2 separate regions of the Homo sapiens genome follow, and region 2 is linked to region 1. A link means that fine-mapping ties the variant in region 1 to the plasma level of a protein whose gene starts in the linked region. Region 1 holds a variant in brackets. A gene starts in the other region. All regions are shown on one strand. Distances are from middle to middle.

Region 1 (2,914 bases):
GCCTGGCCTAATCACCCTAACTTTATTATTTTGTTACCTGGTAGAGCAGGTCCTTATTCTTTTTCAAGATTGTCTTGGCTGTTCTTGGTCTCTTATATTTCCGTGTACATTTTAGAAACCTCTTAGCAAGCTCGGCAACACAACACCCCGTTGGGATGAGTGGAATTGGGAGGGCTTTGACATCTTTACAATTTTGAGTCTTCCTGTCCATTAACATGGTTACAGATGTGCATTTATTGAAAATTTCCTTAGCGTTTCTCAGAGAAGTTTTATAATTTACCAGACAGAGATGTATGCTACATCTTGTGTTATACTAATTCCCAGGTACTTGACTTTTTCGATGCTGTTATAAATGTTACCTGTTTTTAAATCCCATTTTCTAATTGTTCATGCTGGCGTATAAAAATGCAATTGATTTTAGAAAGTGCCAAACTGTTCTCTAGAGTGGCTTTCCTATTTTGCATCCCCACCAGCAATATATGAAAATTCTAGTTTTTCCTCATCCACATTAGCACTTTGAATTGTCAGTATTCTTTGTTTTATCCATGAAAGCACTTTTTATTCATGATAGATGTGTATTGGTATCTCTTCATAGTTTTAGTATTCATTTCCCTAATGGCATATCCGGTTGAACATCTTTTCATATGCTTGTTTGCTACCTATATATCCTCTTCAGTGAAGTATCCTCAAATTATTGCCCACTCAAATTGTTTTTTATTTTTACTGGTGAAAAGATGTCCATTTAGAATTAGCCAGCTGGACTCAGTTTAGATGATTCCAATTTTGTTGGCAACATCCAAAGCATCATAAGCAGGAGCCAGTCAAACACACGCCTTCTCTCCATTGGGCCTGATTGATCAGGCTACATCAGTGTTGCAGAGCTTCCCCACATCCTGTTTGCTCTGGTGCTTGTTGGCTTTGCCATCCACGGTGACCTCAAGTGTGTTGTTATCTTCTGTCTTCTTCATGGCACACTCAATGCTCAGGGAATCGGGCAGAGTGATGAAGCTTGTTTCTCCTGGGGGCACTCTTCTGAGGATATCTGGGTTGTCTCTAGAGCTGTAGTGTTTTGGGGTGCTGGAAGGTGGGTGAAGTGCAGATACTCCTTTTTGTGTGTGGCTGTGGATGCTTTCCAGCACTGCCTTCTTGGCCTTCAAAGCTTTTGCTTTGGTTTCAGCTTTGGGAGAGGCAGGAGCTTCCTTAGGTGTCATCTTGTCTGAGTTTTTGTATTGTTGAGTTTTGAGAGTTCTTTATAGATTCAGGATACAAGTCTGTTGTTGGATATGTGATTT[G/A]AAAATATTTTCTTGGCCGGGCATGGTGGCTTATGCCTATAATCCCAGCACTTTAGGAGGCTGAAGCGGGTGGATCACTTGAGGTCAGCAGTTCGAGACCAACCTGACCAACATGGTGAAACCCCATCTTTACTAAAAACACAAAAATTAGCCAGGCATGGTGTCACACACCTGTAGTCCCAGCTACTTGGGAGGCTGAGGCAGGACAATTGCTTGAACCTGGGAGGCAGAGGCTGCAGTGAGCCGAGATCACACCACTGCACTCCAGCCTGGGTGACAGAGCAAGACTCCATCTCAAAAAAAAAATTTTTTTTTCTTTGCATATATAGCTTGTCCATTCTCTTGGAAGTGTCTTTGTCAAAGCAAACATTTTTAATTTAGATGAAGTCACATTTATCAGTTTTTAAAAAGAATCATAACTTTGGTGTCATTTCTAAGAACTCTGCTTACCCCTAGCCTATGAAGACATTCTATGTGTTCTTTTAAAGTTTTATAGTTTTACATTTTATATTTGAATTTATGACCCACTTTGAGTTAATTTTTGTGTAAGGTGTGAGGTTTAGATCAAGGTTCTTTTTTTCTCCTTTGCCCTTTGTATTTATGGCAAATACAGATGATCAATTGTTCTGACACTATTTGTTGAAAAGACTGTCTTCCACTTAGTAACTTTTACATCTTTGTCAAACATCAAATGTCTATATTTGTGTGAGTTTATTCCTGGACTCAATTTTATTCCATTGGTCTATGTGTCTCTCTTTGCCAATACCACACTATCTTTATTACTCAAGCTTTATAATAAGTTTTAAAGTCACATAGTTTGATTTCTTCAACTTTGTCTTCTTTTTCAACATTGTTTTAAACTAGTCTAGTTTATTTTCTCTTTCATATAAGTTGCACAAAATCCTGTCCATGTCCACAAAAAGATACTGCTGGGATTTTGATAGGGATGGTGTGAAATGTACAGATCACTTTGGGGAGTACTGGCATCTCCTAATCCATGAACACACTGTCTTTCCATTGAAGTCTTCCTTGGTTTCTTTCATCACCTTTCTTCTTTGTTAATATGTGCATTTAGTGTTATAAATACCACCCCCCAGCACTGCCTCCTACAAATTTTGTTACATTGTATTTTTCATTTGGCTCAAAATATTTTAAAATTTCCTTTTGAGACTTCCTCTTTGACCCTATGGTTATTTAAAATATCTGGGTATTTTCCATGGATCTCCCTAGTTCAATTCTATTATAGTCTGATAATCTACTTTGTATGATTTCTATTCTTTTAGATTTGGTAGGACTTGTTTTATGGCCCAGAATATGGTCTATCTTGGTAAGTGTTCCATGTGCTCTGAAAAAGACTATTTTGCTGCTGTTGGTTAGAGTGTTATATAAATAGCCACTAGGTTAGATTGACTGAGTGCTTTTCAGGTCAGCTCTAAGCTTTCTGATTTCCTGCCTACTTTTTCCTTCAGTTACTGTAGAAAAGTGTTGATGTCTCCCACTTAAATCGTGAGTTTGTCTGTTTCTCCTTACAGGTCTGGCGGTTTTTACTTTTTAGTTTATGAACACTTAGGATTTTTATGTTAAGAAGAGGGGCCTGATCTTGGGTGAGTCTGCTCTCCAGA
Region 2 (2,914 bases), 16 Mb before region 1:
GCCAAGTTTGTACATATATTTTTGACTACACTTCTTAACTATTCTTAGGATAAATTACTAGAAGTGAAAATTCTTGGGTGAAGAGCTTGAGGCCTTTACACACACACACACACACACACACAAAAATAGGCTGGATGCAGTGGCTCACACCTGTAATCTCAGCAGTTTGGGAGGCTGAGGAAGGAGGATCACTTGAGTCCAGGAGGTTGAGAATAGCCTGAACAACATAGCAAGATCTTGTCTCTACAAAAAATTTAAAAAAAATTAGCTGGCCATGGCAGCATGTGCCTGTAGTACCAGCTACTCGGAAGGCTGAGGTAGGAGGATCGCTTGAGCCCAGGAGGTTGATTGAAGCTGCAGTGAGCTGTGATTACACCACTGCACTCCAGCCTGGGCAACAGAGCTAGACTCTGTCTCTAAAAAAAGCACAAAATAATATTTAAAAAGCACCAGGTATGCCTGTACTTGAGTTGTCTTTGTTGATGGCTACAAATGAGGACAGCTCTGGCTGAAGGGCGCTTCCATTTCCATGGGCTGAAGGAGGGACATTTTGCAAAGTGTGTTTTCAGGAAGACACAGAGTTTTACCTCCTACACTTGTTTGATCTGTATTAATGTTTGCTTATTTATTTATTTAATTTTTTTTTTGAGACAGAGTCTCACTCTGTCACCTGGGCTGGAGTGCAGTGGCATTATTGAGGCTCATTGCAGTCTCAGACTCCTGAGCTCAAACAATCCTCCTGCCTCAGCCTCTGGAGTAGCTAGGACTACAGGCATGTGCCACCATGCCTGGCTAATTTTTTAAATGTATTTTTTTGTAGAGTCGGGGTCTCCCTATGTTGCCCAGGCTGGAGTGCAGTGGTGTGATCCTAGCTCACTGCAGCCTGGACCTCGGGCTCAAGTAATTCTCACACCTCAGCCTGTCCAGTAGCAGGGGCTACAGGCGCGCACCACCATGCCCAGCTAATTAAAAATATTTTTTTGTAGAGACAGGGTCTCTCTATGTTGCCCAGGCTGGTTTCAAACTCCCAGGCTCAAGCAATCCTCCTGCCTTGGCCTCCCAAAGTGCTGGCATTACAGGCGTGAGCCACTGCGCCTGGCCCGTATTAATGTTTAGAACACGAATTCCAGGAGGCAGGCTAAGTCTGTTCAGCTTGTTCATATGCTTGGGCCAACCCAAGAAACAAGTGGGTGACAAATGGCACCTTTTGGATAGTGGTATTGACTTTGAAAGTTTGGGTCAGGAAGCTGGGGAGGAAGGGTGGGCAGGCTGTGGGCAGTCCTGGGCGGAAGACCAGGCAGGGCTATGTGCTCACTGAGCCTCCGCCCTCTTCCTTTGAATCTCTGATAGACTTCTGCCTCCTACTTCTCCTTTTCTGCCCTTCTTTGCTTTGGTGGCTTCCTTGTGGTTCCTCAGTGGTGCCTGCAACCCCTGGTTCACCTCCTTCCAGGTTCTGGCTCCTTCCAGCCATGGCTCTCAGAGTCCTTCTGTTAACAGGTGCATGGGGGTGGGGTGGGGGACTCTGGGTGGGGAGGAGGGTAACTTTTGGGTCTGTCATAAATAGAGGGCCCAGAATATGTAGGAGTCAGTCTGGGGAGAGGCAAAGGGGATTTGGGGAAGGAGAAAGGGTTCAAGAAGAAGCAGGGAGAACAGCTAGACCCAGACAGGCTGGCCAGGGAAGCCTGGATGAATGACCACATTCATGGACTGTGCAAGGCTGCTTGCCGGTCCCCTTGCTTCACACATGAGGAGACGGAGGCCCAGGGAGGAGAAGTGACATGGCTCAGGGTGCGCAGCAGGTGTGAGACCCCTTTCCTGAGTGCTTCCTCCTGGATCCCCTCTCACCATCTCCACTTTGCCTCCGGTTCTATTTTCCAAGGTCCCGGGTGCAAATGTTTGTTGAATGACTGATGAATGAAAATGATTTGAGTTTGTTACCTTTTATGCTTATATGTTGTGGAAAATGAAATTCTCCTCAAAAGGGAAGGAAATACTTGAGAGCTGCATAGGAAGGAAATTATCTAATTAAGAATGTATAGAAACTTCACTGTTGGGCAAATCATCGTTGTGACACCGGGGGAAGAAGCCATTTAGGTGCTCAGAAGGGAGGCTGGAATTCAGAGCAGGACTGGACGTGCCCCACGACGGTGGTTCTTAGGTCAGGAGTCAGCAAACAGTGGCCTGGGGGCCCGATATGGCCCACGACCTGTTTTTGCACAACCTGCCAGCTAGAGATTGAAGATGAACACTGATAATCGATTTGATGATAGGGAGCACCACCCCCAAAGAATTCTATTTGTCTCATTTGTAAACCCGTATTACAAACAAATTGTACTCAATCATTATGTTTGAAATTTCCCTAATGACAAATTTGTGGAAAAGTATTTTCTGTCTTGTTATATAAGTACTTGTACAACATATTCTATCAGCCTCTTGGTCTGCAAAACCTAAAATTTACTATCTGGCTGTTTACAGAATAAGTGTGCTAATCCCCGCCCCAGGCTAACAGAGCTGGACCTGGGAGGCAGACATCTGGATGCTGGGTTAGTTAGGGTGACCGAATGGATGGGAAAGGGAATGGAGCAGGAAGACATGCTGCTATCTTTTTTTTTTTTTTTTTTTTTTGATACAGGGTCTTTCTCTGTTGCCCAGGCTGTAGTGCAGTGGCATGATCATGGTTCACTGCAGCCTTGACCTCCTGGGTTCAAGCAATCCTCCCACCTCAGCCTCCTGAGTACCACTACACCCGGCTAATTTTTTATTTTTTGTAGAGATGGGGTCTCACTGTGTTGCCTAGGCTGGTCTTAAACTCCTGAGCCCAGGTGATCCTCCCACGTCAGCCTCTTAAATTATTGGGATAACAGGCCTGAGCCACCACACCCAGCCATTGCTTTCTTTTAAATTATTATTAGTT

Alleles and levels. Alleles are on the strand shown, and positions count from the first base shown. The strength of an association depends on the size of the effect and on how common the allele is.
With allele G in place of A in region 1, the plasma level of the protein whose gene starts at base 1,380 in region 2 is higher (weak association).

What was found. PIP is the chance, under the fine-mapping model, that this variant and not a neighbour inherited with it causes the effect. The UK Biobank Pharma Proteomics Project read protein levels with antibody pairs (Olink). The fine-mapping took linkage between variants from a reference panel, not from the people measured, so its PIPs are less certain.
Region 2: it holds the start of ITGAM, and the variant in region 1 is fine-mapped to the plasma level of the ITGAM protein (UK Biobank, PIP above 0.99).

What each region holds. Positions count from the first base shown.
Region 1 is chr16:47,149,365-47,152,278 of GRCh38, forward strand. All of the region lies in intron 1 of ITFG1-AS1 (ITFG1 antisense RNA 1), which reads left to right. It also overlaps the pseudogene RPL23AP72. Among named protein-coding and RNA genes, the nearest start is that of ITFG1-AS1, 6.8 kb to the left of the region's middle. The variant G/A (reference allele first, on the strand shown) is at 1,293.
Region 2 is chr16:31,258,596-31,261,509 of GRCh38, forward strand. ITGAM (integrin subunit alpha M) reads left to right here and starts at 1,380. Exons shown (of 30, transcript NM_000632.4): 1 at 1,380-1,497. The coding sequence starts at 1,470. RefSeq lists an enhancer at 1,137-1,236.